Linked DNA regions of Homo sapiens. The protein of the gene in region 1 purifies or fractionates together with the protein of each later gene. This does not show direct contact. Each region holds a gene or a part of one and is shown in the gene's direction. Other genes may lie near its edges. The genes, in order: GLUL, TCHP, ASPSCR1 and NME7.

Region 1 (8,262 bases):
TAAAGGACAAAATGTATCTAAAAAAACCCGATTCACAAAACAATGAAACTGGAGGCAGATTATCAGATGTGAAAAATGATCTCCAAAGAGTCCTTCAAAGAGAATCTTTCCTATGGTGTTGTTTTTTTCTGCTAATCTAGTTATTCACAAAGAAAATATATATTGAGTGTCTGCTATACAGAAGTCACTGGGTAAGCATACCCAGGATTGAGAGGTAAATGGTTGCTCCCTGTCCTCTGCACCTCCCTCAGTGAGGACTGTAGGAATTTCAGTATTTTAGAGATGGTGGCCCCGGAACAGATCACCCACAGACCAAAGCGACTAAAGGAAAGGGAACAGAAAAAGAACAGCACCTTGAAAGCTCATTAAGCTCTAAAATACTAACCAAACATGACTTCATCAAGTTACTATGAGTTATCTAAGCCTCAGTTCCTCATCTTTAAGATAGAATGATGTGAAGATCTAATTCTAGAATTGTATGGCTTTAATTTTCTCAATAGGACATTTTCCCCAGGTTGTTAACTAAGATGAACTTGATTCTTCCCAACTTTCCACGTAGTTTCCTGCTAGAGACATGATTCAGGGTAGAGCTCAAACAGACCCAAACCTTCCATCATAACACGCAGTTGGGGAAATGAAGTGTTCCTTGTATTTGACTGATTTCAGCACGCATCCTACAAAACTCAAATCAGGCTACAGATATGGCTGAGACGTGAATTTCCAATTTCCTGTCTTGAACTGAAGAATATCAAACAATCAAAAACTGTAAAGAACAATTCCTCCATTCTTAGTGCTAGTTATTGAACTGAAGTATAATGTAAATGTAGTCTTTCCTTCTCTAATTGTATAAAGTGAAATTTGAAAGCTTGGCCAACTACAGCTTTTCCCTAAATTATGGTTTAAGAATAATGCTATCAACTTCCAGAGCTATTTCTTTTCTTCTTCATTTTTATTATTATTATTTTGATTTGGTTTAAGATTCTACTATGGTCCATTCTTTTGGAAAGAACTGATGTTGGTTTATTACATAATAATAATTTTTAAAAGAATATTTTACAATTCTGGGTTGGGTTTCCAGGGTGTTCCCCAACCCTGAGTCTCAATTGTATCTCTTTAACATGATTTAAAGGTCTCACTGAATGCCTATTGAAATCATTCATACACAGGGAAAACTCCATTTCCTAAACAGAAAAGGTTTGGTCAATGTGAGCCCTACCCTAAATTTTGTGTCTAATGTGTATAAGGCAACCACACAGGCCCTGGGAAGGCACTCCAGATCCCCAGGTAAAGGACTTCATACTTGCAGAGTGAGAATGGATCCTTTAAAAGACAGAGAAAGGGCCGGGCACAGTGGCTCACGCCTGTAATCGCAGCACTTTGGGAGGCCGAGGCAGGCGGATCACAAGGTCAGGAGTTCAAGACAAGTCTGGCCAATATGGTGAAACCTCGTCTCTACTAAAAATACCAAAAAATTAGCTGGGTGTGGTGGCACACGCCTGTAATCCCAGCTCCTTGGGAGGCTGAGGCAGGAGAATTGCTTGAACCCGGGAGGCAGAGGTTACAGTGAGTGGAGGTTGCAGTGAGCCGAGATTGCGCCACTGCATCCAGCCTGAGCAACAGAGTAAGACTCCGTCTCAAAAAAAAAAAAAAAAAAAAAAAAAAAAAAGAGAAAAGTTGTTTCCTAATAGAGATAAGATTTGGGAGTAGAGCAAAATCCTAATACAAAGCTTTTATTTCAGGCAGCAGAACAACATTGAAGAAATACTTTTAATCTCAGGCTATTTCTGCAGATTTGGAACAAAATCTTTCCCTGTAATTGCTCTCCCACTCCACCCACCCCTTGGACATGGCAATTCTACTCTAAGAGAGAAAAATATGACTTCAAAGCACATGCAATGGAACCCCTTGTCAGCACTGATATGGTGTGTACCAAGAAACAGAAAAGTTCATGGGTTCAAGCATTCTAATGCTCTTTTTATGGTGGGGGTGAAGAATGGGGGCGGGTGGCAATTTAGGGAAGAAGGGGAAGGAGAAGAAAGGGCAGCAGACACAGCAAAGTCAAACTGGATGAAACAGGCTGTTTTACTTTTAACTTCTCTAAAAGTACAGTCTGGGTTTCTGCGGGTGAACCAGTTAAGGGTTTTCTTCTGCTTTTACTTCTCGCCTATGCTCAAGCCTCCCTGGTCAGTTCTTGGACTCATCTGCGCCCTAATTTCATCATTTTAAGTAAATGTGGGGCTGGCCAAGGAGGACAAGGCCTCTTGTTCACTCCTGAAAGAGTCAGTGGTCATGTATTATGTTCCTAACCCTTACAAAGCGTGCCCCTGGTCACATGAATGGATCAAAGCAAATCCATTTCCATTCTTGGAAAAGCAGCTCAAAGCACATGTTCTCTTGATGGTGCTGCTGTCACTTCTGTGTGGTTAACAAATATCATTTATTGAACACTCACCGTGGACACTACTGGGGGATATGACAATGAATAAACTGCTCAATGAGGTCAAGACATCTAGGAAGGGAAGCAGGCACTCAAATGGCAGAAATACCATAAGCCTGCAGAACCGCACTCACGCCTTACCATTCCGTTCTCTGTTATGTTTGTCATCCCCACCTCAGGGGCTGGTGGTGTGTGCAGCAGAGGCTCTGGCTTATGGTTCGGTAGTTTGGTATCTGGAAATGATTAATAACATCTTTTAAAATAAAAATATCACTTTTCTCCTCCTTTGCTCCCCTTCCTCGACCATTTAAACTCAAACCTTTACAGAAAGAGATGAAGACAGCTCACTGTGTTACCAAGGTTAAGTCCAGTTTGATATAATGAATGGTAAAGCATTACACTGAGTCAGAAAAGTTGTATTCAAAAGTCGCTATGGGGAAAGAAAGAATCCAATCACCTCAGATTATAGAACTTGGCCTATGATAATTATAATTGCTGTTTTCTAAACATTTACGATGCACCAAGGACTACTCAATCTCTTCTGCATGTGCTATCACAATTAATCCTTTTATGAGGTAAAAATGATTATCCCTCTTTTATTATAGACAAAGAAACAGGCTTCATGTGGCTAAGTGATTTGGCCAACACAAAGCTGGTATGAAGGGAAAGCCCAGATTTGAACCTAGGTTTACCTGACTTGCAGCCGTGCCTTTAGCCACCACAATGTAATGCTTCAAGGGGCAGCACTGAAATTTAACAAGGAATTTGTAAGGCACCTTACCCAATCCAAAATGTCACCAGTCTGAAACATCCCAAAAAACCCTGTTTGAGATGAATGCTGCATCTGTCATGTAAAAGCACTACAGTGTTATACACTCTTAAAGGAAAGGGATGTTGACCAAAGAAGCCAAGTTATGTGTGTGTGGTTGCAGGCAACATTTCTTTTCCACATTTGCGGTACAAAACATAACCAGAACAAACTTCTTCCCTTCCTCTTCCAAAGGCACTGGAAGCATAAATTCTTGCTCTTTAAACTGAAAGAAGCAATAAAATCTGGACACCATCAGGTAGATTTCAGGCACTAAAAATAGAATGATCGAGTAATAGTACGGATAGCAGTATCTACCTACCTACCTACCTACCTACCTATGTTGTGTCTCTAGGTACATTTCAATATTGTGTTCACATACACATTTTCCCAACCATCACGGCAAGCTGAGAGGAGAGGTATGTATTCCCATTTTCCAGATTAACAAGAAGCCGCACTTGATAAAGCAAAATCAGGGAGAATTCGTTAAAGGAATTTCTTGACAATCCCTGGACTTCAAAGGGGGCAAGTGAACACCTCGATTTCCTTTCAGCTGCTCCGGGGGCAGTTTGCACACAGAATTTCAAATCTAGTGGGCGGCTCCACAGGTCATTTTCGATGACCACTTTATTTTGCAGATGAGGAAACTTGGGCCCTGAAAGACCTGCCTAGGGTCTGGCCAGCAGTATGAGACAGGTCTCCAGACTTAGTTTCTACCGCCCTCCAGAATCCTCTCTGTAAAATTAGAGAAACAGCACGTTGATTTCAAATGTGAAATGGCAGAGTTCTGTTTATTTCCCCAGACCCAAGAGAGCCGGAGCGGGCGGCTCTTCCAGGCCTTGGGAACCCCGGCCTGTCCCCAGGCCCGCGCGGCACCCGCCCTAGCCCAGGCCCGCCCAAAGTTCCCTCGGGTCCCGCGCCCCGCGCTCCCTCTCAAGCTAACCCCTGCCCGCAGGAAGCGGGGCTCGGAGGCTCCCTCGCAACAAAAGGCTAAATTCGGTTTCCCTGGTTCCGCATTTCCCCAGGGAGCTCTCCTCGTAAAACTATTCCCCGTGAAGGCGGCAGGGCAGAGGTCCAGGGCGGGCTTTGCTGGGAGCCTCGGGACCCCGGGTTGGGGGCCGTGGGGCGGCACCTGGCGAGCTGGCGGGTGGGCGGCGAGCCGAGGCTTCCCGGCCTGGCGGCAACTCGCCCCTCTGCCCTCAGCCCTCCCGGCTCCGCTCCCTTCCCCCACGCCGCCCTGCCCCTCCCCCACGCCCCTTTCTCTTTCTTTCTTTCTTTCCCAGTTCGCTTGCCCCCACCCCAGCGGCGCCCGCCGGGCTCCTCGCCCAATGGCCGCGGGGCCCGGGACCGCATCAGCTGATCGGCCCGGGCTCCTGGCCGCTGGGAGCCAATCAGGGCACCGGGGGCGGCCCCGGGCCGCGGATAAAGGGTGCGGGGCTGCTGGCGGCTCTGCAGAGTCGAGAGTGGGAGAAGAGCGGAGCGTGTGAGCAGTACTGCGGCCTCCTCTCCTCTCCTAACCTCGCTCTCGCGGCCTAGCTTTACCCGCCCGCCTGCTCGGCGACCAGGTAAGCCCCCGGACGGCCCGGTGTCACGCAAGCGAGGCGCGCCGCCCCTGCTACCCCGCGAGGCGCGCCGCCCAGCCTCTTTTTTCGGCTGCCTGCCCCTCCAGTCCCAGCCCTACGCTGCGGCCTCTCCGGCCCATGCCTGAGATCCGGCATGAGTGCTCCTCCCGCGTGCTTCCGCCGCTGGTGGCTTGGACCCGTCGGGGCTGGCGCTGGTGGGGCGCGCCCTTGGCCAGGCTCTGGGAAGGGCGGGGTGAGTTGTTTTGATCTTCTTTTCACTACTTGCGGCCGAAGCGCCGCCCCTGGAGGCCGTTGGGCCGGCCTGCGCCCTGGGGCTCGCAGTGGTTTGTTTGCGCTGTGGATGGAGTGGCGGTGCGGTCCCCTGTGGAGCGCAAACAAGGCGCTTGGTTGGCGCGGGCGCCTGGCTGCCTTCCTCGTGGTGGGGCCTTCGGAGCAATCGTCCTGGTTCTGGCGATGGTTGAGACGCCTCGATTGCGGCGTGTAACGGTGAGCGTTGTTTGGGCGGCCGGCTCCCGCCTCGGGGTCCCGGGGGCCTTCCAATGTGACCGAACAATGGAGAGCCCGGGCCTCGGCGCAGTCAGTGGAGAAGCCGGTCCGGGCGGAGGCAGCAGCAGCGCGCAGTCCCTACGGCCTGCGCCCCCACCCTCCCCCGGACCCCCCAACCCCTCGGCGGCAGGGTATGGCCACCTCCGTGAGGCCCTGAGATTCGGACGGGGGCCCGAGGGGCAGGGCGCCCACTTTAGGGACATTTCAGTGGGAAGGGGCTGCTCTCAAAGTGGATAATTATAACTCCCTCGGGGGCGGGAAGCGGGGATCCTCCCCCAGCCGCAAGTCCACGAAGAAAGCAACGAATGAAAATTATGAAGACAACGAGAAGTCAGACTCCTCCGGGTCGCGCTCCAGCTGCTTCGGCTTCGTCGCCTACTCTGTGAACTCCGGGGAGAGATCTCGAGTCAAGATTAAGACCTTAACCCACCAACCTGCCTGTTCGGACACCCCCCGGGCCGGCCGCTGTCTGTCCCCTTCTCCATCGCCCTCTCCCAGAAAGCTCCGGTGCTTGGACCAGCTAGAGTCTGAGAAAGAGGAGAGGCGCGAACGCCACTCCAAAAAGAGAAGGGTTAAAGAGGGCAACCCTAACGATACGCTTGACTTTCTGTGGCTGGGGTGAGTGAGGGGGCAGGGAGGACGACCCCGGAGTTGGTGGGAGCTGCAGAAACTGCTGAAAACTTCAGAATCCATTTCCCCCACGTAAACTTGGCACCGCAGCAGCAGCAGTTGATAGAGTGGCACTAGGCTGCTGGCATGCAACTCGGCTCACGGAAAAGAGCAAGAGATCCGAAACTGAGGCTTAGGACAAAGTGTGCATGATATTGGTGGTGTAACATGTTGGAGAGGACAGCCGAGAAATTGGGTTGTAGGTTTTTTTTTTTTGTTTTCCGACAGAGTCTCTATCTGTTACCCAGGTTGGAGTGCAGTGGTGCAATCTCCCGGCTCACTGCAACCTCTGCCTCTGGGGTTCAGGCGATTCTCCTGTGTCAGCCTCCCGAGTAGCTGGGATTACAGGCGTGCACAACCACGCCCGGCTAATTTTTGTATTTTTAGTAGAGACGGGAGTTTCATCGTGTTGGCCAGGCTGGTCTCGAACTTTGTACCTCAGGTGATCTGCCCGCTTCGGTGGGTTGTAGCTTTTAGCGGGAGCTAAAGGGTTCTGGGATGGAGGTGGGAAGTAGGATTTGGCCGGCTGAGTCTTCTAGAGGCAATATTGGGGTGTTGGTCTTCCCCAAGGGGAAGGGTGGTGAGGCTGAGGGAGAAGCAGTTATGTTTTCAGCTGGGCAAACATGGACGGTTGCCCGTAGAAACTTTGCCACTGTACTTCAGAACGTTGCCCTAGTCGTTGGAGGAGAACAATGTGTTCCCTTTCTAGCCACCCTGGTCCACGGAGGGAGGAGGGAGAGAGAGAATGTTTCCTCTTCGGCTGTTGTGGCTTGAGAGTTTCTCTTCTTTCGGAGGTTTTGTGGTAGTGGCTGGCAGTTATTAGTATGCCTCATGGCTTTTAAATTTCCAGATCTTTTTGATTTAGAAGTGGAAATTTCCTAATTACTTGACAAGTCTTGTAGAATTCCATAATGTTGTGATTCTTGCCCACTATCTTAAGTGAGACTTTGCATGAGACCTATGGAAATTATGGCAGCATTCCCCTTAGAATCTGGCTTGAATCAGCTTTTGTGTAGGAAACTGCTAGCCTTCTAAAAAAATATATTGTAACCTTGTTTCATCCTCAAATCTAAATGTGTAATGAGTTTTCTTTTGGTGGGGAGGGGCGGTGGGTTTGAGTTAAGACCACAGCTAGGATGAAAGACAAAGAGAAAAACAAACTGTGGAAGCCAAGCCTGTTCTGTGGCTGGATTTTACTTATATTGGAAGAAGTTCTATGTTTTGTAAATTTGTGTATTGGTTTTGATTTGTTTCCTCTGATAGTTTAGTATTTGGATAGTTTAGTGTTAACCTCAGCTACACTGAAGGAATAGACCTTAGTCCTCACAAGTATAAGTTCTAGCTTGGAAGCCTGGGTTCTGCAGTAGCTGTGGAACTTAAGCCTGTGAGCTCAGGGATGCAGAGGCATTGAGTTACTACCAAGGGCCTGATCTTTTCTTTAGCAGGCATCTGTGTTAATTGTTTCAAAAGGTGGTGATCAGTTTTACAGCCTATTATAAAGGAGATTTTTGCCTACTATAAAACTAATCCCCCTGAAAGAGTGAGTAAACATAACTTTTTGTGTGTTGACTTCCACAAGGGAAGGAGTTGGCACTTACACTCTGACTTTTGATTCAGTCGTCCTTCTTGAGCCATTTTTGCAGGGGATCAGTTTGGAGTGGGCGTTAACAATGTTATTCTTTTTTTCTTCTCCAGAACACCTTCCACCATGACCACCTCAGCAAGTTCCCACTTAAATAAAGGCATCAAGCAGGTGTACATGTCCCTGCCTCAGGGTGAGAAAGTCCAGGCCATGTATATCTGGATCGATGGTACTGGAGAAGGACTGCGCTGCAAGACCCGGACCCTGGACAGTGAGCCCAAGTGTGTGGAAGGTGAGACAGCAATGTGGAGTGGAGCACATGCTGGGTGGGATCTGCAGAGGGGTGGGCAGCAGCCTTTGACTCAGCCTCTGGATTAGGCCTCTTTCTTCTGTTTGTAAAGGTTTTCTAAGGCAGGGCTTTTCAGACTTTATTCAGTCAACATTAAGCTCCTACACTGCCTCAAAGCAGAGCGACGATGGAACCCTTTATTTCAATGGAATTGTGCACGTAGGCCAGTGTATTGAAGAAAAACTAAGTCTGGTTTATGGAGAGTTGGCATGGGGCTTAGAGGTTGCCGACCTGGACATCCCCACTTAGCTGGCTCTAAGGCACCCTCAGAAAACCACTGCTCTAACC
Region 2 (7,648 bases), on another chromosome or scaffold:
GGTGGGGTGTGAAGCAAGAAGCTGGAGTGGTTGGTGTTGAAATGTCATACCTTCACAACGGTACCTGCTAATTAAATGATGGCATTGTGCGGCTTCCAGTACTGTCATGTTTCATCTAATGGAGAGCGGCTCCCATAGTGTCACCCCCTCTCCCTGTTCTTGTTTTCTTCTCCCATGCTAGGATACCTAAAATCACAAGTCCTGGAGCAGCTCCAACCTGCGGGTTCCTACCAGGGCTTTCCCTCTCAGCCCCCTGCACGCCGTAGTCATTGACCTGTCATTGAATATTTCATATTGCCAAATTCTTTGTATGTTCACATTTGCAGGCCTCTTTTTTTTGAGATGGAGTCTCACTCTGTTGCCCAGGTTGGAGTGCAGTGGCATGATTTCGGCTCACTGCAACCTCTACCTCCCAGGTTCAAGTGATTCTCTTGCTTCAGTCTCCTGAGTAGCTGGGACTACAGGCACGCACTACCACACCTGGCTAATTTTTGTATTTTTGGTGGAGATGGGGTTTCACCATGTTGCCCAGGCTGGTCTCGAACTCCTGACCTCAAGTGATCCATCCGCCTTGGCCTCCCAGAGTGCTGGCATTACAGGCGTGAGCCACTGTGCCCGGCCGCAGGCCTCTTTTAAGAGCTACACTTGCAAGCCACAAGCTCCCAGAAAAACACACTGAAGAGGGATTCACAGTCTCAGAGGTTTGTTGTAAATCCTGGCTTTTATAGTCTTTGCTGTGTGACCTCAAGAGAGTTGATTCACCTCTCTGAGCCTCAGCGCCCTCATCTGCAAAATGGGGGCAGGAACAAACTCCTCCCAGGTTGGAGGGAGGCTTAAATGAGATAATATATCTCAAAGCACCTGGCACATAGCAGGTGTTCAAGAAATGCTCGTTCCTTTTCTTCTTTTTGCTTTCTCTTAACACCATAGATTCCTTTTTCCTTTGGAGGAGAAGAAAGTACTCAAAATAGGGGATCCATTCACTTTTTCATTCTCAACACAAATATTGATTGAGGCCGGGCATGGTGGTTCATGCCTGTAATCCCAGCGCTTTGGGAGGTTGATGCCTGAGGTCAGGAGTTCAAGACCAGCCTGGGCAACATGGCAAAACCCCAACTCTACTGAAAAAAAATACAAAAATTAGCCGGACGTGGTGGCGGGCACCTGTAATCCCAGCTACTTAAGAGGCTGAGGCAAGAGAATTGCTTGAACCTGGGAGGCAGAGGCTGCAGTGAGCCAAGTTCGCACCACTGCACTCCATCAGCCTGGGTGATAGAGTGAGACTCTGTCTCAAATATATATATAGATAGATATAGATATATAGATAGATAGATAGAGTGCTTACCACATACAAGGCATGGCATGGGGAATGCAGCAAGGAACACGATGATCCCTGCTCTTGTGTTGCAGCAAGAGGGCTTAGGCACTGGGATCAGGCAGAACTGGTTTCAAATCATGGCTCAACCACCTATCAGCTGCGGCTCCTCAGGCAAGCCATGCCACCTTTTCGAGGCTTAGTTTAGGCAATTCTAACATGGGGGCAATAAGATATCTCATAGAATGCCCAAGAGGAGCAAAGGAAAAGGCACTTGTAAAGTTGCTTAATAGCGACAGCCAGCAGCTGTGTAATCAAGAGGTTCAGAGTTGAACTGTGGGGGCCGGTGAGGATGTCTGGCCAGCAAAAGAGAATGGAGGCTGTAATCTGGGGACTTCAGGCTTCCAGGATCAGGCCACTTAGGAATGGTTGCCCTCCGGCATGCTGGTCGAGCCCTAAGCCCTAAAGTTCTGCTAGTGGAGCTTATCTGGTCATTATACAGATGAGGAAACTGAGGCCCAGAGAGTGGAAAGGCCTTGCCCAAGAGGCACAAAATCAGGATCAGGTCTCCCTTACCTTGCCCCAACTCACATATTTCTTTTTCTTTTCTTTTCTTTCTTTCTTTCTTTTTTTTTTTTGAGACAGGGACTCCCTCTGTTGCCCAGGCTGGAGTTCAGCGGTCAGATCTCGGCTCACTGCAACCTCTGCCACCTGGGTTCAAGTGATTCTCATGCCTCAGCCTCCCGAGCTGGGATTACAAGTGCATGCCACCACACCTGGCTAATTTTTGTATTTTTAGTAGAGACAAGGTTTCGCCACGTTGGCCAGGCTGGTATCGAACTCCTGACCTCAAATGATCCACCTGCCTCAGCCTCCCAAAATACTAGGATTACAGGCGTGAGCCACCACGCCTGGTCCAATTCATGTGTTTATGAAGTTCCTGTCGACAGACATTTATGTGTTGGTCTCCTTTGTTGGGTGGGCATCTCTGCTAAGTGACTGCAGTGGGCTGCTGCCACCCCTCTGCACTGGGGACACAACATGAAAGAGTGGCCATGAATTTGCCCAAGGGGGTAGGGATTAATGGGAGGGAAACTTGAGGACTCTTATGCACGCAGTGGGACAGACCCTGATTAAACAGGTGCCAACTAAAGGGGGATGTGAAGGAAGGCTCAAGTTTGGGCTCACCTGGGATGCACTGGATGCTCTACTCCTGGGCATGCTCCATTTATTCTCACACGGGCAACCCTAGAAAGCTGCACTATTTTTTGTTTTGCTTTGTTTTTTGAGACAGAGTCTTGCTCTGTTGCCCAGGCTAGAGTGCAGTGGCATGATCTTGGCTCACTGCAACCCCCGTCTCCTCGGTTGAGGCGATTCTCCTGCCTCGGCCTCCCGAGTAGCTGGGACTACAGGTGCCTGCCACCACGCCCAGCTAATTTTTATATTTTTAGTAGAGACGGGGGTTTCACCATGTGGCCAGGCTGGTCTGAAGCTCCTGACCTCAAGAGATCCGCCAGCCTTGGCCTCCCAAAGTGCTGGGATTACAGGCATGAGCCACCAGGCCCGGCCTGAAAGTTGCTCTATTTTTACTCTCATTCCATGGACTAGGAAGCTGAGGCACAGACAGATGAAGTGACCTGCCCAAGACTACACCAGCATGGTATAGCTTGAAACCTGGGCGTTCTGACTGTAGAGACCATGTTTTGAGACAGGGTCTCACTCTGTCACTCAGGCTGGAGTGCAATGGTGTGATCACGGCTCACTGCAGCCTCCTTGTCCTGAGCTCAAGTGATCCTCCCACCTCAGCCTCCCAAGTTGCTAGGACTATAGGTGTGCACCACCACAGCCTGCTAATTTTATTTATTTATTTATGTATTCATTTATTTATTTAATTTGGAGGTGGAGTCTCACTTTGTCACCCAGGCTGGAGTGCAGCAGCGCAATCTTGGCTCACTGCAACCTCTGCCTCCCAGGTTCAAGCGATTCTCCTGCCTCAGCCTCCCGAGTAGCTGGGAGTATAAGCATCTGCCATCATGCCCGGCTAATTTTTGTATTTTTAGCAGAGACGGGGTTTCATCATGTTGGCCAGGCTGGTCTTCAACTCCTGACCTCAGGTAATCCACCCTCCTGGGCCTCCCAAAGTGCTGGGATTACAGGCGTAAGCCACTGAACCCAGCTGAGGCCATGATGCTGCATCCAGGAAAAACAGAGATGAATAAAGAATGGAGAAATGAAGGGAAGAAGAAATGAAAGAATGGGAAAATGAAAGAAAAGAGAACAAACAAGTATTTTTCTTCATTTTCTTTTTAATGGAATAGTTGGCATGTAATACTTGTAGCACACGAGTTATAAAACATACTAATAGAATGAACACTTTTGAACTCACCACCAATATAAGACTATAATAGAAAGTTATCGGCCGGGTGCAGTGGCTCACTCCTGTAATCCTAGCACTTTGGGAGCCTGAGGCAGGCGCATCACGAGGTCAGGAGATCGAGACCATCCTGACCAATATGGTGAAACCCCATCTCTACTAAAATACAAAAAATTAGCTGGGCGTGGTGGCGTGCGCCTGTAGTCTCAGCTACTCGGTAGGCTGAGGCAGGGTAATCGCTTGAACCCGTAAGGCGGAGGTTGCAGTGAATCGAGATCACGCCACTGCACTCCAGCCTGGCGACAGAGCAAGACTCTGTCTCAAAAAAATAAAAAAGTTACCAATAACTTCCATCTACTTATGCCAGCAGGCCTCTGCCCAAGTTGTACATTGAACACACCTGGGGAATTTTGGAAAACACTGATACTCTCAGATGGGATTTGGGGTTTGGTTTGGGCATCTGGATTTTTTAAAGGTATCTGGATTTTTTCTTCTTTTTTTTGAGACAGTGTCTGGCTCTGTCACCCAGGCTGGAGTGCAGTGGCACAGTCATGGCTCACGGCAGCCTCGATCTCCTGGGCTCAACTGATCCTCCCGCCTCAGTCTCCCGAGTAGCTGGGACCACAAGTCCCACCATGCCCGGTTAAGTTTAAAAAATTTTTTAGAGACAGGAGTCCCTCTGTGTTGCCCAGGCTGGTATCTGGTGATTCTCACGCGCAGCCAGGTTTGAGGACCACTGACTTACATTCTCTTCCCCCTGGTTTCCACCTTCACCTTCACGTGATGGTAACCACCATCCTGAAATACGTGTAGTGCATGGACGGATTCTTTGCCTCCATGCTTCCCTATTTCAAGGAGCAGCGACGTTTGCTATTTATCTCCCGCTGGCCACGACGGGGCACCAGAGAAAAACACAGGCTCCCTACGCGCTGAAGGAGGCTTGGCCCTTGCGACGCTCCGTCGTCGGGCTCGTTGCCGGTGCAAACAGGGAGGAAACAGCCGGCGTTGCTGTAGCGCGTCTGGGAATTACACCGGGGGACTGGCCGGCCCGCTTCGTGCCTGCGGGAAGTCGGGCCGGGGGACTCTTCGGAAACTCCGAGCCTCAGAGAAATGTGAGTCGGAGGGTTGGACTAGGCCGGATCCGGCGTTAGGGCGGGGGCCCGCAGGCGGCCCGCGCGGGCGGGAACCGGGGCGGCAGTCAGCGGGCGCGAGCTCAGGGCGCCTCCGGGGTCCTCACTGCGCTCCCCACGCGCTGTGACCCCATTTGTTGCACGTGCATGTTCAGGTCGAGAGAGGGATGCGACGTGTTCGGGGAGCAGCCCACCTTGTGGGTGGCCAATCCGGGACGGGAATCTTAAACTTTTAACTCTTGGTGCAAAGACTGATCCACTGGCGGCTTTACGGGAGCGGGAAAAAAGTATGTGAAGCTTGCCACGGTCTCGAGACCGAGGTCACACGTTAGCAGCCTGCCGGCTACATTTGGACCATAGACGCAGAGTGTTTGCCCCCAAAACTGGAGGACCTCCAGAATGAGATTCTTGGCGTGCACCAGGCCTTTTCGCTCATTCAGCCGGCGTTCCTACCCAGGCACTGCATCGACCCTACACTTGAGGACAGCTTTTGGGTCAGGGGAATTGGTGCCTGGAGTGAGACTGCTCTCTGCTTTCAAGGCTCCAGCTGTATCCCTACATTGCTCAGGCAATTCCTCTCTCTAGGTCTCAGCTTCTTCATCTGCAAGATGAAAGGTCTGTCCTCCATGGTAGCCCAACATACTTCCGAGTGTTATTATCAGTCCCCTCCCCGGGGACTGCCAGAGCCAGGGCAGGTTGGTCCCAACAGGCAGCCCCTTGCAGCAGAGAGAGCCTGGGCTCTGGTCTCAGACGGACATGAATTAGGAACCCAGCTTGTTTATCTCCTTTACTTCCTGGCTCTGTGATCCTGAGCAAATCACTTTGTAATGCTTAACGTTGTTTTTACTAACCTTGTTTTTTAATGCCTTACCTTGTTTTTACTAACCTTGCTTTTAGACTCTTTTTTTCCCCTTAATCACCTAGCCTTGTTTCCACATGAATTAGCTCTCCCTTAGTTGAGAAAGCCGGATGAACTCCATCTGGTTCCCTCATTTACAAGACATCAAGGACTCCTTACCCACCCCTTTCCTCAAGGAGTTAACTTGTGTAAGCAGAATCTCAACATATCAAAGAGTCCAATTAACTGATAAGGTACTGAAACAAGCAATGTACGAAGTTCCCAGGATTTTGCTCAAAAGATAACACCATAAAACCTTGAGTTGGTGTCGGGCAGAGCACCCATATCTAACATTTTATGAAAGATTTAGAGCCCCTGCACCTGGAACTGTTGTTTCTCTGTAACCATTTGTCTTTTAATTGTTTCTCTGTGACTCTTTGTCCTTTTAATTTTTGCATGTTTTTACTTATGTAGAATTGTTGCATCTGAGCTCCCCTCCCCTTCCTAAACCAAAGTATAAAGGAAAATCAAGCCCCTTCCTCGGGCCAAGAGAATTTATTAGCCGTCTCTTGGGCACTGGCTAAATAAAGGACTCTTAATTTCGTCTCAAACTGTGGCGTTTCTCTAACTCGCTCGGGTACAACAACTTTACCTCTTCAACGTAAGTTTCCTTACCTGCCAAATAGCGAGGTGATTGTAAGAATGAAAAAAAGTCATATGTATTGAGTGCTTGGCACATACATGTGTTCCTTACATTATTGTCTCTGTTTAAGCACAGCATAAATGCCCCCGATGTGCCTAGTCTAGCAATCTTAGGACAATCCCTGTGTCTGTCTGTTGTGTTCCTGGTGATGGCTGGCCCACAGCTGGGTGCACGCAGTCCAGAATTTTTTATGTTTTTGTTTTTTTGAGACAGAGTCTCACTGTCACCCAGGCTGAGTGCAGTGGCGCTATCATGGCTCGCTACAGCCGTGACCTCCTGGGCTCAAGCAATCCTCCTGCCTCAGCCTCCTGAGTAGCTGGGACTACAGGCGCACCACCACTCCTGGCTAATTTTTGATTTTTTATAGAGATGAGTCTCATGATGTGGCTGGTCTCCAACTCCCGGCCTCAAGTGATCCTCCTGCCTCAGCCACCCAAAGTGTTGGGATTACAGGCATGAGCCACTGTGTCTGGCTAAGGTTTATTTGTTTTGTTTTGTTGTGTTTTGAGATGGAGTCTTGCACTGTCGCCTAGGCTGGAGTGCAGTGGGACAATCTTGGTTCACTGCAACCTCCACCTCCTGGGTTCAAGTGACTCTCCTGCCTCAGCCTCCCAAGGAGCTGGGATTACAGACGCCCACCAGCACGCCTGGCTAATTTTTTGTATTTTTAGTGGAGACAGGGGTTTCACTATGTTGGCGCAGCTGGTCTCGAACTCCTGACCTCGTGATCTGCCCACCTTGGCCTCCCAAAGTGCTGGGATTACAGGCGTGAGCCACGGCAAATTTAAAAGGATGATTTGCAGCACTAGTGGCAGATCATTTTAAAAAATGCTGGTGCCTGGGCCCTACTAAGTTTTTTGATTGAATTAGTTTGGAGTGGGGCTCAGACACGGTTTTGTTTGTTTGTTTGTTTTAAAGTTCCACCAGTTGATTTCACTGTGCAGCCAAGGGGTGGTGACCACTCGTTAAAGGGATGAGGCCAAGCTGGTGAGGGTTCCTGGGATTTGCAGTGGCTCACTTTCCTCCCATTCCTGTTCTCAGATGGCGCTCCCGACGCTGCCGTCCTACTGGTGCAGCCAGCAGCGCCTGAATCAGCAGCTAGCACGACAGCGAGAGCAGGAGGCCCGGCTTCGGCAGCAGTGGGAGCAGAACAGCCGTTACTTCAGGATGTCTGACATCTGCAGCTCCAAACAGGCAGAATGGAGCTCTAAAACCTCCTACCAGCGGAGGTAATTGTGCGGTAACTGCCGATTGGATGGAAGTGGGGACCACTTGCTGGTCAGGGGAT
Region 3 (7,564 bases), on another chromosome or scaffold:
AGGAGGGTTGTTCGCAGGGACTGCCAAGCCATCCCCAGGTGTCGAGAGTGTGAGGTAGGAGTGGGAGCCCAGAGCCGGCTCCAGGCCACCCCAACTCCCGACAGCTCTCGGCTGTTCTGTGTGAGGGGGGACGGGGCCGAGTGTGGGTCGGCGCAGTGCTGAGGTGTCCCACGTACCCCAGCACTGTGCTGAATGCATTGAAATCACTGCCCAGGGCTCCGCGAGCTGCACGGCCCGGCTTTGTCAATTTCATTGCTGTTGATGCCAATTAGGGGTGACGCTGTCCCTCCCGCATCCCAGGGTGGGCAGAGGGAGGGGCCGGCTTGTTCCCTGGGGGCAGGCGTGCATGGATTCAGCCTGGCCATGGAGCTGTGGCCAAGAGGGCAGCGGGGGCAGCTGGACTGGGGTTTTTGCCGACGCTCTAATTTGGCGGCTGTCGCCACCCCTCCCCCCCATGGAGACCCTGACGTGGCCTGAGCCAGACTCCAGGGGCCATGTGCCCTGCTGGGGAGCAGGGGCTCAGCATCAGGTCTGGTGCACTGACTGGGAGAGGGGGGTCTCCAGCCCTGGACAGGCTCTGAGTGGGGTGGGGTCCCCCAGCTGCTGTGCCCAGCCCTGCCCCCAGGACCTGGCCTTGGCCCTGCGCTGGCCGGGGCCAGGGAGGGAGTGGGCCCAGCTCCCAAGTCTGTGTGACCACCTCGGCTGGGGCACTGACAGCCCGGGGTGCGGAGGGCCCAGCCCGTGACACCCGCCGTCAGCCGCGCCCTCTGCCTCCAGCCCGTGGACCGGGAGCCCGTGGACCGGGAGCCGGTGGTGTGCCACCCCGACCTGGAGGAGCGGCTGCAGGCCTGGCCAGCGGAGCTGCCTGATGAGTTCTTTGAGCTGACGGTGGACGACGTGAGAAGACGCTTGGCCCAGCTCAAGAGTGAGCGGTGGGTGCCCCCTCAGTGCCTCCCGGCATCTTCGCGCCAGGGTTTGCCCCATCGGGTGCTTGTGCTGCCCGCTGTCCCCAGTGCCAGCACTGGCTCCCGGCCCAGGTCCCTGACAGGCTGCCCTTAACAGGACCTCAGAGGGTTGGGGCCCAGGGAGGGGCGTCCAGACCTTCCTGCCTTGTGTGGGGAGAGCAGCCCACTCCCACCCTGGAGGGTGCAGGTGAGGAGCCCGGGGCCTGTTGCCAGGGCCCCCATTCTGACCAGAAGCCCTGTTCCTTCCCCTCCTCACCACAGGAAGCGCCTGGAAGAAGCCCCCTTGGTGACCAAGGCCTTCAGGGAGGCGCAGATAAAGGAGAAGCTGGAGCGCTACCCAAAGGTCTGCAGACAGGATGTGGGGGCGACTGAGGCACAGCTCTGAGGGGGCCCCCCGTGAGGTCTGTGGACGGGATGGGGCGACTGAGGCACAGCTCTGAGCGGGCCCCCTGTGAGGTCTGTGGACAGGACGTGGTGGCGACTGAGGCACAGCTCTGAGCGGGCCCCCTGTGAGGTCTGTGGATGGGACGTGGGGGCGACTGAGGTACAGCTCTGAGGGGGCCCCCTGTGAGGTCTGTGGATGGGACGTGGGGGCGACTGAGGCACAGCTCTGAGCAGGGCCCCCCCGTGGTGGCGCGCATGCCCTTAGTGGCCAGTTGATCCTCCCCTGCTCATGATTTAGAATGAAACCTTTTTTTTTTTTTGAGACGGAGTCTCTCTCTGTCGCCCAGGCTGGAGTCAGTGGTGCCATCTCAGCTCACTGCAAGCTCCGCCTCCCGGGTTCAAGTGGTTCTCCTGCCTCAGCCTCCCAAGTAGCTGGGATTTCAGGTACCCGCTACCACTAGCTCGGCTAATTTTTGTTGTTTTTTTTTTTTTTACTAGAGATGGAGTTTTACCATGTTGGCCCGGCTGGTCTCGAACTCCTGACCTCAGGTGATCTGCCCGCCTCGGCCTCCCAAAGTTCTGGGATTACAGGCTTGAGCCACCACACCTGGCTGAATGAAACTTTAAACAGCACATTTGAGCCGGGCGTGGTGGCTCACGCCTGTAATCCCAGCACTTTGGGAGGCCAAGGTGGGCGGATCATGAGGTCAGGAGATCGAGACCATCCTGGCTGACACGGTGAAACCCCATCTCTACTAAAAATACAAAAAATTAGTCAGGAGAGGTGGCGCACGCCTGTAGTCCCAGCTGCTCGGGAGGCTGAGGCAGGAGAAAGGCGTGAACCCGGGAGGTGGAGCTTACAGTGAGCCGAGATCATGCCACTGCACTCCAGCCTGGGCGACAGAGTGAGACTCCATCTCAAAAAAAAAAAAAAAAAAAAAAAACCAGCACATTTGAACCCAGGTCAGTGTGGTTTTAGAACGCAGGCCGCTGTGCACACACACGGCACTTGGCTGTCTCCATGCCCAGCCTGCCACGGGGGAGTCAAAGCCCAGGCCCTGATTGGGGGTGGCTGCTTCTGCCTGCCTCAGCCCTGGTGTCCATGGCCCAGCATGGGCCGAGTGGGGAGGCCACGCCCTGGTCCCTGGTGCAGCTCCGGCCGTCCCTCCAACCCTTCCACTTGTCTGGCCTAGGTGGCTCTGAGGGTCCTGTTCCCCGACCGCTACGTCCTACAGGGCTTCTTCCGCCCCAGCGAGACAGGTGGGCAGCGCTGTGGGGTGTCCGGGGATGGGGGGCAGGGGCCCATGGGGCCTCTCCCGGCTCCTTCCTTCCAGGCCACAGGACTGCAGCCACCTGGCCTGCGGGCTCCAGGGCACTGGGTGGGTGCGGGTGCTGATGTCCCCTTGGGGGTGCAGAGGCATCCCAGTTCGCAGAGTGTCAGGCAGGCTGGGCGCTTGCTCCAGGTGCCCGGCCCCAGCTCAGGGAGCCCGTGGTCCTGAGTGCTCACGTCGCCCACCTACTGGGCATGGGTGGGGCAGAGGGGCACCCAGAGGAAGGCACCCTACCCCGGGAGGAGGGCAGTGGTGCTGTGACATTCAGGGGCTTGTGACCTGTACCCAGACGGCCGGGCGGCAGCAGCCCAAGGTCACAGGGGCCTCCCCCAGGGAAAGGGAAGCGCTTAGGCTGGGGCGGGGGTGGGGCTGGGGGGCAGCGGGTGGCAGTGGGAGTGCTCTCCAGCAGGGCGGGGGTCCCAAGTGTGGCCCGCACGGTGGCCCAGCCACGCCGAGCACCTGGAGTGCTGTGGGAGGAACAGGGCTGAATTCCCACCCCTCGGGGAAAGGCCCAGGAGGGTGGGAGCAGTGGCCCAGGTGCTGGGGCAGCCCGGGGCTGGCGTGGTGGAAGAGCTGTCTGTATGTTCTTTTTCTCCTCTGCAGTGGGGGACTTGCGAGACTTCGTGAGGAGCCACCTGGGGAACCCCGAGCTGTCATTTTACCTGTGTACGTTTTTTCTCCTGAGCCCACTCCTGCCTCCAGTGCTCGGGGCCTTGGTGCTGTGGGCACACCGCCCGTCCCAGCTGGGGCTCGTGGCAGCTTCTCCACAGGAGCAGCATCTGTGGCCTCCCGCCCAGGTGCCTCCTGCAGCCCATGGTGTCTGTGTGGAGACCTAGGAGGGCCCTTCTCCCCGAGCCAGGCGGTGGGAGCCAGGCTTCCTGCCTTCTCTCTCAGCGCCCTGCTCCCCTCTGGAGCCCTGCTGCACCCCAGCCTGGTCCCCACCCCTGGGGCTCAGGCCACTCCTGCCCGAGGGCTGTGGGAAGGGTGGGTGGACAGGGAGTGGCTGGCCTCCCTTGGAGGGTGTCTAGGTGGCAAAGGGTTAGGCTGCCCACTGCAAGGGGAGCCGGGCTGCACGGGTGGTGTCCCCTGCAGGTGGGCCTGCCCCCCACCGGCCCTTCCGAGCCCTCAGCTGGAGTTTCTGCAGCAGGAGTGTGGGCACAGGGCGTGCTCGTGAGGGGCTCTTCTGCCCCACTTGAGGCGTCACCCCCATCTGCAGGCCTGTCTTCCTTCGGGCGCATGGATGGGCGAGGTCCACGGTGCTTCCTAACACGTAGGTGCCTTCTCTCCTCAGTCATCACCCCTCCAAAAACAGTCCTGGACGACCACACGCAGACCCTCTTTCAGGTACCTGAGGGCCTCCCTGGGGTGCTGCGGGGCGGGGCCCTCCAGGGAGGGCAGGACGAGAGCGTGAGGCCTCGGGCAGGAAGGAGGGGCCTGGCAGGCGCTGGGGCAGGATAATAAAGCCTTTGAGAGCCGGTGGGTTCCGAGGGGGCCGTGCGCCTCTGAAGTTGCTTCTGACACGGCTTTCCGGCCTCCTCTGCTTCCTGCCTGGCCCCGGGTGGGAAAGGACCTGCTAGGCGGCCTGCCTGAACTGAGGCCGCTTGGAGGTCTCGGCCCCCCTGGGCTGCTGTGCTGGGGCCAAGGCGGCAGCAGTCCCTGCCCAGGGGTCTGGGTGAGGAAGGGCCCGGCAGGCCTCGGAGCAGGGCTCAGGGAGCCCCAGAGGGACCAGGCCCTCAGCTGGAGGCGGCCGCCTTGGGCTTCAGCTGCCCCTTCCCCCTGCCCGGCCTCTCCCGCTGGCCCCCCGGTCCCTGCTAGGAACGCCCTGGTGCCCATAGCTGTCCGCTGCTTCTGTGGGTCCCTGCCACCTCCCTGAGGGCTCCTGAGGGTGGGGCCAGGGTGAGGGTGCCGGGTTCCCAGCCCTGCTGGGCCGCCCTCCAGAGCCAGAAGCAATGAATGTCCTGTCCTTGGCCTGTGGGAGAGCTGCCTGGGGCCTTCCGAAGCCCTCTGGCCTAATGGTTTCCTCTTCAAAGCCTCTTCAGATATTTTAATTAGCCACAGAGGCGGGTTTTTTTTTAAGTGGCCACAGGCCTCTACAGAGGCCTGGGTTGGAGGTGAGAAGCTTGCTCACTGCCTGGGGCTGCAGCCGCTTACTGAGCTGGGGCAAGAAGGCTGGCAGCTGCCAGGGGTGATCAGGAGCAGGACTGAGCGGGATTCCCTGCAGCGGAGGCAGGGGAGGGGTGAGACAGTCCCCTCTCAGCCCCCGAGCTGCCGGGCGGACTCCGGGCCTCCTTCCTCCGTCTCCATCCCCTCCCTTGCTGGCCAGCCAGTTGATAAACATTGAATTTGGAAGATGCCTTGGGATGGAGGAGGACCAGTGCCCAGGCCTGCAGCCCACCCTCCCGCTGGGAGGCCCCTGAGAGCACTGGGGTGCTGCTGCCCTGTTTCTGGGGACGCTTGGCTTCCCTACCAGCCACCGTCTCCTGCCCTCCATCAGCTCGGCTCTAGCCTCGGGGCCTCTCGGGGTGGTGTCCCCGGTGACGTGCCTGCCTGCCTGCCTGCCGTCAGAGAGCTGGCGGGGCTGAGGGAAGGAAGCCTGCCTCCCTGGCAGGCAAGCAGGCGGCGGGCGCGGAAGCACCAGCTTTCACGTCTCTGGCAGAGCCCCACTCCGGCTGCCTGCTGCCTGGGGGATGTCCAGGGGCCGGCCCCCGGCTTCCGAGAGGGACAGCGTGCGTGGGTGTGGGGGCTCCGGTAGCCCGGCAGCCCTCTGTGGCCCTGGCCCAGGAGAGTGCAGGTTTTCTGGGAGGGCTGGGAGGAGGCGGCCAGGAGTGAGGACAGGGAATTGTGAGCAGTGTGGGGGCACCACTGTGGGGAACAAAGCCCCCCGCCCCTGCCTGAAACCTGCGTCCTGGCCCTGGGCATCAGGGCTGGCCCTGCCCTGGTGTCCTCACACAGTCACTTCTGTGTGCGGTCCGCGTCCTCAGGTCATGAGGAAGGTCACCCTGGGCTAGGCCCACCTTTGATGTCACGGTCACCTCACTTATCTCTTCAAAGGCTCTGCTGTTTGGGCTTCCTTCCATTGGCTTTGGCAGGGCAAGCCTGGCTCCTAACACCCTCCGTTTGTTGGAGCTCTCAGGCTGCCTCTGGGGACCGTCTGCCAGGACACAGGCCACCCTTGCTGCCTGGTTCCCCACTCCCCAAGCCACTCACCTGGCAGGGCGTGACTGGCACTTCTGGCCTGAGTGCCTGCTGGGCGCCCGCCCCTAGCCAGTTCTGTCGTCCTTCCTTTCCACCCAGGACAGCCCCGTCCTGCACTGCCGTGTCGCCCACTGCCGGGGCCTCTCTGGGACCAACAGGCCCCCTTCCTTCCACCCACCAGGCCCTACCCCACCTGGACCCTCTGAAATGTTCCTCGTTGACAAATGGTCTTGCAGAAGGCAGGATGGCTCCTGCAGCCCCCACTCCCGCTCTGTGGGTGGATGCCCCGTCTCTCCCTGCCCAGGCACCGTGGTGCCTTCTCTCTCCCGGGCACCGTGGTGCCACCTCCCTCCCAGACACCATGATGCTGCCTCCCTCCCGGGCTCTGTGGTGCCATCTCCCTGCCGAGGCACTGTGGTGCCGCCTTCCTCCCGGGCACGGTGGTGCCGCCTCCCTCCCAGGCGCTGTGGTGCCGCCTCCCTCCCGGGCGTCTTGAGCTGCAAGGGCTCCTCTCTTGGCTTCGTTCCCCGGAGGGTGGTGCTGTTCTCGTTGGAGGGGGCGGCCAGGCGCTGGGCCACGTGTGCATGCAGCCCCTACAGAGTTGCTGCCCCGTGGGGGTTGACGTGGGCCTCCTTTCGGAAGCTCTTCCTGGCAACACTGAGTGGGGCAAGGGGTTGGCAGCAGAGAGGCGGCTGGATTTGGGGCCCCAGTGTCCTGGGCGGCAGCTAGGGAGGGGCCGGCTCCAGGCCCTCAGGCTGTGTCAGGGCAGGGCGGGCACCCCCACTTCTCCCTGTCAGCCGAGGGAGCCAGGCAGGGGCAGCCTGAGACATCCTGGGACAGTGCTGGTGGGGAGAGGCCCCTCAGCCTGTGCCTCCCTCAAAGGCCCTTCCCGGGCCCTGCTCTGGCTGGGGGGACGGTGTGACCCACTTTCCCTTTCCAGCCCCAGCTTGGTGACCGGGTGGCTCCATTCACCCTGGGTCCCTCGCTGAAACGGTGCCTGGGACCAGAGCAGAGAACACGCTTGCCAGTGGTAGGAGATGGAGGCGACGTGGACTCTGGGAGGCTTCTTTTTTGGGGTCCATCCAGAGGCCGAGCCTCTCCAAGCACTGGTCAGCCTCCATGCCACCCAGTCTGCCGACCCTCCTCTCCACCATCCCCTCGTCCGAGCAGTGGCGATCCCTCCCGAGTCAAGGCTGGGCACAAGCACGTGGGGACAGGCCGGGTAGGCTGCCTGGCTCAGTGCTCCCTGCACAGAGGCGCAGACAGGGAGCCCAGGTGCCCCAGGCCTGGCTGCCAAGCCTACTTCCCTCTCCTGGTGTTCCCGAGTCCTGCCCGCCCCTTTCTGTGCGTCCCGTGGGGCAGTGCTGGTTGGGGGTCCTGGCCTGTGGGGGCTATGATGAGAACCAGGTGCCTCTCTGCATCGGTGGCCTCTGAGGGAGCCCTCTCGCCCGGCAGCAGGTGGGATGCAGATGGGGCTGGCCAGGGCTCCTGTGCCCACAGCAGCCTCTGGGCAGTGTCCCCTGGGCTTCTGTGAGCAGCCGCAGCCTGGGTGTGAATCTTGGAGGCCCGGTGGTGGCGGAGCATGCTCTCCATCTGGGAGAGGCTGAGACCATGGCAGCTCCTGGCGCTGTCCTCCCCGTGCCCCCTTCCTGGCTCCCCAGCTTCCGGCGCCTCTCCAGGGCCACTCGG
Region 4 (7,564 bases), about 13 Mb from region 1:
TGAGTCAGTTGTCTAGGTGAGAGTCATAGGACTAGTAGAGTCAGTTTCTTGGTATGAGGCATGTATCTGGGTGGCATCAGGAGGTTTGCCAGAATGCAGAAGCCTGGAAAATATCTCAAGACCAATCTTAGGTTTTACAATAGTGATGTTATCTAAAGGAGCAATTGGTGAAGTTACAAATCTTGTGACCTCTGGCTACATGACTTCTGAATAGTAAGAAATTATAGAAAAGCAAGGAACAGTAGCTGGTTATTGCTTACCTATGCCTATATTTTAGCAGATTTTAGGTCCCTCCCATAGTCCTAACCTTGCGGCCTTCTATTAGTCTTACAAGGCTGTTTTAGTCCCTAGAGGGGGTCAGTTTTGGAAGGGACTATTACCATCCTTGCTTCAAAGTTAAACTATAAATTTCTCCCATAGTTAGCTTGCCTATGCCCAGGTATGAGCAAGGGCAGTTAGCTTTGTGAGGTTAGAAGCAATATGGAGTCAGTTAGGTTAGATTTCTCTCACTGTTATAATTTTTGCAAAGGTGGATTCACTTCCAGACCCAGTGTAGGTGTCTTTTCTGTGATGCCTTCCTTCCCTACTCAAAGAGGGTTGAGTCGAGTCAGGTGCGGTGGCATATGTGTGTAGTCCCAGCTATTGAAGAGGCTGAGGTCAGAGGATTGCTTGAGGCCAAGAGTTCAAGGCCAGCCTGAGCAACATAGCGAGACCTTGTCTCTAAAAAAGTATAAATAAATACAAATTTAAAATCTATGCAGATATTCAGAGCTTTCCCCTCCACACTGTGAAATCAAGAAAAAAAGAAAAAGAGGTTGATTGTTCATTCTTTTTGTCACCATTTTATGTAGTATACATCTCTCCTATTGTACTTGCCTCATTCGGTTGAAATTATTTGTTTATAGATCTGTCACTCTTACTAAAATGTGAACTGTTGGAGGAATTCATGCTTATGTTGTTCACAGTATTGCCTAGATCATATTAGGCACTCAAATGTTTGCGGAATGAATACAAAATAAGAAAGAATGCGCTAAGTGGTCTGAGAGAATACAAAGTAATAGGGGGCAAATTGTACAATTGAGTCCCTGCTTCTCAGTCAGAGTCAGAAAAGTTGTCATGAAGAAAATGGAATAGAATTTCAATAGTTAGAATTCTATGACCTGTGCAATGGCATAGGGAGGTAGAAAGTGACATTTGCTCAATACTGTTTTTGGTTTTTGCCTGTCTTACATTATGTTATCAAACTTCCCAGGAATGCTAAGGGCAATGAATGAACTCCTGTTCCCACTCCTCCTGCCGGGATTGCAGGCTGGGGCTCTTTCAAATTAGGTGGTCAATGAAGGCCTCTCTGTGGAAAGAACTTTTATATTGAGACCTGCATAATATAATACAAAGTGCAGTGATCTGGAGGAGTCCAGGCCACGCTAACAACAAGATCAAATACCCTGAGGCAGAAAAGAGATTGGTATATTTTAGGAACTTATGGTTCAATGTAATAAAATAATAGAAACTGGGTGGTGGGATGGTGCAGGGGTGGCTGCAGTAGGGAAAATATGGTGCAAAATACCATGAAATGTGGTTAGGGAGGTAGGCAGAGGCCAGACCACACGTATACGTACAGCAGTGTTTCTCAAACTGTACCTGATGACTCATTACTCAAATTTGTGGTATGTAGCCAGCATTAAAAAGATGACATAAAATAGCAACTTAACATATTCACTACATGTTGTAAGGGTAACGTTCATGAACTTTTGTTTAATTGTATATGTATTGGATGTGTACTGGATTCTGATGTAAAATATATTTCTTACTGTGAGTCCTGATCCACAAAGTTCAAGACACAGGGTACTTTGAATAATATATACTTTATTTGTTTTATCTTATTATTTTATTTTTATTTATTTATTTTTTTTGAGACAGGATATTGCCCTGTCACCCAGCAGGAATGTAGTGGTGAGATCATGGCTCACTGCAGCCTCAACCTCCCAAGTTCAAGTGATCCTCCAGCCTCAGCCTTCCGAGCAGCTAGGATAATAGGTGTGTGCCATGATGCCCAGCTAATTTTTTTTTTTTTTCAGAGACAGGGTCTCACTATGCTGCCCAGCCTGGTCTTGGACCCCTGGGCTCAAGTGATCCTCCCACCTTGGCCTCTCAAAGTGTTGGGATTATGTTTATGTTAGCCACCACGTTCAGCTAATATATAGTTTAAAAGGCAAAATAGTTGAAATCTCAAGGCCTGCAGATATTCTTATTCCTCTTTTGATCTAGTGAAAATGTTCTTGTTGTATGGCAGATACAGCTTTGAATTAACGAAAGCCTAAAATTGGCTAGAGTAAAATTTTCAAGTTTCTTTGTGCATCCAGATCACTCTCCTCCATATTTGCCATCAATCATTTATGAGAAAGAACAGGCCTAAGAAACAGATGTCCCTTCTCTGTGTTCAGTCTAGCCACTGTTGTATGTATTGCAGCAAAGGATTATGGCCTCTCAATAAGCAGCTGAAGATGGAGGTTGTTTGCTCTGTTGGTGAGGCTTCCTGACCACTGCAGTTTATCTAATCAGCTTCTGTCTTCATCTAGTTTGTTATAGTTGAGGCTTCCAAATTCTGGAATCACCTTTATATTGTGAAGCAGAGATAGGGAACCATAGTTTAGCATGTTTCTCATACACCTCATTTAAGATGAAGCGTATGCTGGACTCATCAATTTCTTTTACATATTATAAAGAGGACAGAGAAGGTAATTCTAAGATATATTTGACAAAGATATTAATATTATGTATCTTCTAAAATATAGCATTTATTAGAATATCATTACTCCAGATGAACTGTTAGTGTAATAAAGGACTTTAAAGATTATTAGCTATGTTCCATAAGAACTAATCTAAACCTTTGAAGTAAAATGTCTCAAAGTTGTTTGTTTGTTTATGTATTTATTTATTTTTGAGACACAGTCTCACTCTATCACCCTGGCTGGAGTGCAGTGGTGTGATCTCGGGTCACTGCAACCTCTGCCTCCTGGGTTCAAGCGATTCTCCTGCCTCCACCTTGTGAGTAACTTGGATTACAGGCATGTGCCACCATGCCTGGCTAATTTTTGTGTTTTTAGTGGAGACAGGGTTTCACCATGTTGGCCAGGCTGGTCTCGAGCTCCTGACCTCAAGTGATCCACTTGCCTCGGCTTCCCCAAGTGCTGGGATTACAGGCATGAGTCAAAGTTGTTTTTAACAGAGTTTTCAAAGACAGTTTCATAATTACTGAAGAACAAAATTTTATTCCATGAAATGAAATGCTTTTCAGTTTCCAACTTTATGACGTTTCTCCTAATAGCTTTTCTGGTTTTGTTTTTAGCACCTGCCTTTTTTTTTTTTTAGACAGAGTTTTGTTCTGTCGACCCGGCTGTGGAGTGCAGTGGCGCGATTTCCACTCACTGCAACCTCTGCCTCCTGGGTTCAAGCAATTCTTGTGCCCCAGCCTCCCGAGTAGCTGGGACTACTGGCGCATGCCACCACGCCTGGCTAACTTTTGTATTTTTAGTAGAGACGGGGTTTCGCCATTTTGGCCAGGCTAGTCTCAAACTCCTGATCTCAGGTCATCCGCCTGCCTCGGCCTTCCAAACTGCTGGGATTATAGGCATGAAGCTTGGCACCCAGACAGCATCTGCTTTTTAGTCATCCAGAATTCCTTTTGTTACTTGAATTGCTGATTTGGAAGAATTGCAGTTCCAAAGATCCACAGGATTTTATTTACAAAAAGTGAATCAGAAAGCACAGGGCATAAATTGCAGATATGAAACTCTTAAAAGTTTATTTTCCTATATATTGTATTACAAATGCAGTTTAGAGCCTGTTATATTCTTGTTTAGTAGGAAACAGTGGTATTTGGAGAACGGAATAGTAAGTGGTTAATATAATGCCATAATTTTTTTCATGTAGCTTTTTATTTATTTTTGCTTTCCTTTTTCTGCCTTTTTATTCCCAATTCTTTCTCATTCACCAGTTATTCTTCTATTCGAGAAAGTATTTATTGAGTACTTTCCATATACTGGTAACTGGTGGGTATACATTGATTAATAAGATAGCACACAGTGGCCCCTAACTCATGGAATTTATGGAGAAAAACAGATATTGGAAAATAAATTACAAGTATAAGTTGGATTACAAAAGAAAAATGACAAGGTGAGGTGGAAGTTAGTAATAAAATAGAGTGATCTGAACTAGCCTGGGGTGGTGAGGGAAAGTCTCTTTGATGATAAAACTCTTTAATTGTTTTTTTCCTTAGTTTGAGAGAAAAACAGTTTACATGAATAAATAAACGAATGATGACCTCATATGATGATAAGTACTATGAGGAAAATTAAACTAAGTAATGCAATATTGGTTGGTTCCAAGAGCAAGTAGCCTTGAGTAGGACAATCAGGGACGGTCCTCATGAGGATGTGACTTTTAAGCTGAGATGTCAATGATAGAAAGCAGCTTGCCAGGTGAAACCTAGGAGAAGAGCATTCCAGGCAGAGTCAATAGTGAGCACAGAGGTGCATTAGAGGAACAGGAGGGAGATAGTGTGGCTGGGGCCTAGGGAATGAGAGGACAGCTGGAGGAGAAGAGATCTGAGAGGCAGGAAGGAGCCAGGAATACTGAGACTTATGGAACTTGGGAGGGATTTTGGATTTTATTCTAAATGCAGTAGTATTATACATCTTATATATTTTACCTATTCCATCAAAATATTTTATTTTCCTTGGATTTGCCTTAAACTTTTGCCATATTAATTTGGTCTCTTGGTGCTTATTTTTATCTTATCTGTAAAATTTATGATCTTATAAGCTTTGGGAAATATTTTTCTGAGCTTCTTTTGTCTTTGAACTTCAGAGACTCCTAATTTCATCCCTTATAGTTGCCATTTCATAATTTATTTTCCCATTTCTGGACTTATTTTTTGTTTCTATAATATCTACTCTAAGGTGTGGCGAGCAGAGCTACATATTCCAGATGGGTATGCATTATAGTTTCAACATGGGAGTTATGTTTGCTGCTGTGATCTTCACCTAGTACCTTTCTTGATGCTGCTATAGCATATGATTGAAGTATCTTACTTTCCAGAAGTATCTCCAGCATTCCCAATGAACTTTGTATTCACATTTTTTTCAAAAACTGCCTAAACTTCTTCACTTCCAAAGTTGTCAATATTTAAAACTTTCTGTTAATTAGATGTGAGAAACTGTAGCTATTAAAATGTACTGCTTAATTCACATTTATTTTCTGATACTGGACACTTTGCCTTAATAAGTTGCTGTTGTTCTCTCTCCTGACTCATCTTATGTGCTGTGCCTTCTTCATATTTCTATACTCTTTAAAATGTATCTTCATATGCACACATAATGGCTCTAGAGCTCTCTGATAGATGTAAATTCAACTTTTATCCTTTGTTTTCCATAGTTTCAATATTTACATGATACATATATATGCTATATATGTTTTATATATGTTTATAAAGATATTTAACTTATTCTGTTGTAGAAATATAGGAAAATTACTTAGTCATTTTTAGAAATGAGAAAATATAAAAGTAAAAGTAATAAAATTACATTTATCTATAATAACACTGCCTGTATACAATCGCTATTAATATTTTTGTGTAATATCCTGGTCACATATATACTCATACATATATACACACACACACAGAGATACATATCCTTTAAAATATGATTCTATTATATTCATTGTTTAGAAATCTGTTTTATCCCACTTAATATATCTTTTGCATTTTTCCAGATCAGTTTTAAGAACTACAGCCAGCCCTGGGTAGCCATGGGTTCTGCATCCAGATTCAACCAATTGAGGATTGAAAATATTTGAAAAAAAAAAATAACAATACAATGATAAAAAATACAAATAAAAACAAAGCACTATAACAAGTATTTACATAGCATTTGCATTGTATTACGTGTTGTAAGTAATTTAGAGATGAATTAAAATATACTGGAGGATATGCATAGGTTATATGCAAATGCTATATCATTGTATGTAAGGGACTTGAGCGTCTAAGGATTCTGGTATCTGTAGGAGTCCTGGAACCAATCCCCTGCAAATACTGAGGGACAGCTCTACGTTTTATTCTTTCATTTACTCTGATTTAACCAATCCATTTATTAATTTGTTCTGTTAACACAATACTAACATATTTTTGCGAACACATTTTTATAGACATCCATAATTATTTCCTTACAATAAATTAAAAAGGAAATAACTAGGTGCGAGAGGTCATGTGCATTTTTAGGCTTTCAATATACATTGCCAGACTACTCCCAAAATAGTTTTGCCAGTGAATACTCTGCTAGCAGTATACCATGGTGCCTGTTTCTTCTAAACTCTAAACTGGTATTTCTATACATTACATACATATGTCTAACAATAGATTTGAACTTTTAATAAAACTGTCACCTGCTTTGCTCAGAATATTGAGAGAAATATAAATTACTGTATGTTCTATAGATGAAAGGCACTGTTAATACTTACCTACAATATTTCTTTGTAATTATTGTTTTACATCTATTATAAATTGTTAAAATTCAAGGTTTATTGTCTGACTGTAGTGAAGAATATTAAGTTGGCCTTTTTTTAACTATTATTTGTAGACAGATTTTCCAGTCCTCTCTTGTGTACTTATTTTCAAGATGTAGCTTGTTGAAGTACAAACAAACTGATGTAGAGCTAGAAATCTAAAATTTCAGTCTTTATTCCAGTCCTGGCTTAAGCACTTATGAGCTGTGTGTTATGTAATCTTTTTGGATAGTTATTTTCTCATCCATAAAATCAAAATAATACTTTCTGTTTAGATTACCTTAAAGCATTTTTTGTGAAGATCAAATAAGTTAATATGAAAGTAATTTATAAACTGTAATATACATATGAAATGTGTTATTTTCATATTAACCAGATTGCTGCCTAATGAGAAGATAGTTGAGGAAAATGGAAGAGATTAAAATATCAACCTTCAAAAATAAATATTTGAGGTTAATGGTGTTATGCAATTTTGTGGCTATTGAAAAATTTACTTTTATATATTAAATTCCCTCTTCCTAAATTTCTCTTATAGATTCATTTTCCTAATGGAAATAAGAAAAAGCTGGTAAAAGGGAGGGAAATGGCAGAGATTGGTCTTGAGACCAGTTTCAATAATGGTCATATACTTTTGTGGATAGGGGCAGCTAAACATGTGTGATATGTATTTAGCAGGTATTAGGTGTGAGATCCCTGAATATCTACTCAATTTAAATGGATTAGCTGGGAACATTTACTTTTATTGCTGGTCATGTGAGATTTTATTATTCAGTAATTTGACTGTGAAAGTACAATGAGACCGTTCAGACCCAGTCTGTTTCTTGCCACTTAGACTCAGAAATTCGGCTCTGGAAAAACTGAAAATCCCTTCATCTAGTGGCAAGTACAGTTTTATCATTTATGTTAAACCATATTGCCTTTTAGGTACCTTATTGGATTTTACTGCATGCACTGAGATCTCTAAAAGGTGAATATCTGTCTATCTTAGATATCTGAATAT

The links.
Region 2: the proteins of GLUL (region 1) and TCHP purify together in Homo sapiens (affinity purification with mass spectrometry; 4 studies listed by BioGRID and IntAct, with this or other methods). This does not show direct contact.
Region 3: the proteins of GLUL (region 1) and ASPSCR1 purify together in Homo sapiens (affinity purification with mass spectrometry; 4 studies listed by BioGRID and IntAct, with this or other methods). This does not show direct contact.
Region 4: the proteins of GLUL (region 1) and NME7 purify together in Homo sapiens (affinity purification with mass spectrometry; 4 studies listed by BioGRID and IntAct, with this or other methods). This does not show direct contact.

The regions. Positions count from the first base shown.
Region 1 is NC_000001.11:182,388,227-182,396,488, reverse strand, and holds the start of GLUL (glutamine synthetase), read left to right. Parts: upstream 1-4,698; 5' UTR 4,699-4,810; intron 4,811-5,147; exon of another isoform or gene 5,148-5,314; intron 5,315-5,636; exon of another isoform or gene 5,637-5,992; intron 5,993-7,738; 5' UTR 7,739-7,751; coding exon 7,752-7,917; intron 7,918-8,262. UniProt on the Homo sapiens protein: Glutamine synthetase that catalyzes the ATP-dependent conversion of glutamate and ammonia to glutamine.
Region 2 is NC_000012.12:109,895,626-109,903,273, forward strand, and holds the start of TCHP (trichoplein keratin filament-binding protein), read left to right. Parts: upstream 1-4,648; 5' UTR 4,649-4,801; intron 4,802-4,951; exon of another isoform or gene 4,952-5,434; intron 5,435-7,401; coding exon 7,402-7,589; intron 7,590-7,648. UniProt on the Homo sapiens protein: Tumor suppressor which has the ability to inhibit cell growth and be pro-apoptotic during cell stress. Inhibits cell growth in bladder and prostate cancer cells by a down-regulation of HSPB1 by inhibiting its phosphorylation.
Region 3 is NC_000017.11:82,008,260-82,015,823, forward strand, and holds part of ASPSCR1 (tether containing UBX domain for GLUT4), read left to right. Parts: intron 1-777; coding exon 778-932; intron 933-1,226; coding exon 1,227-1,308; intron 1,309-2,542; coding exon 2,543-2,609; intron 2,610-3,283; coding exon 3,284-3,346; intron 3,347-3,896; coding exon of another isoform or gene 3,897-3,971; coding exon 3,972-4,024; intron 4,025-6,815; coding exon of another isoform or gene 6,816-7,097; intron 7,098-7,564. UniProt on the Homo sapiens protein: Tethering protein that sequesters GLUT4-containing vesicles in the cytoplasm in the absence of insulin. Modulates the amount of GLUT4 that is available at the cell surface. Enhances VCP methylation catalyzed by VCPKMT.
Region 4 is NC_000001.11:169,357,587-169,365,150, reverse strand, and holds part of NME7 (nucleoside diphosphate kinase homolog 7), read left to right. Parts: intron 1-7,564. UniProt on the Homo sapiens protein: Possesses an intrinsic kinase activity. Displays 3'-5' exonuclease activity with a preference for single-stranded DNA. Does not seem to have nucleoside diphosphate kinase activity.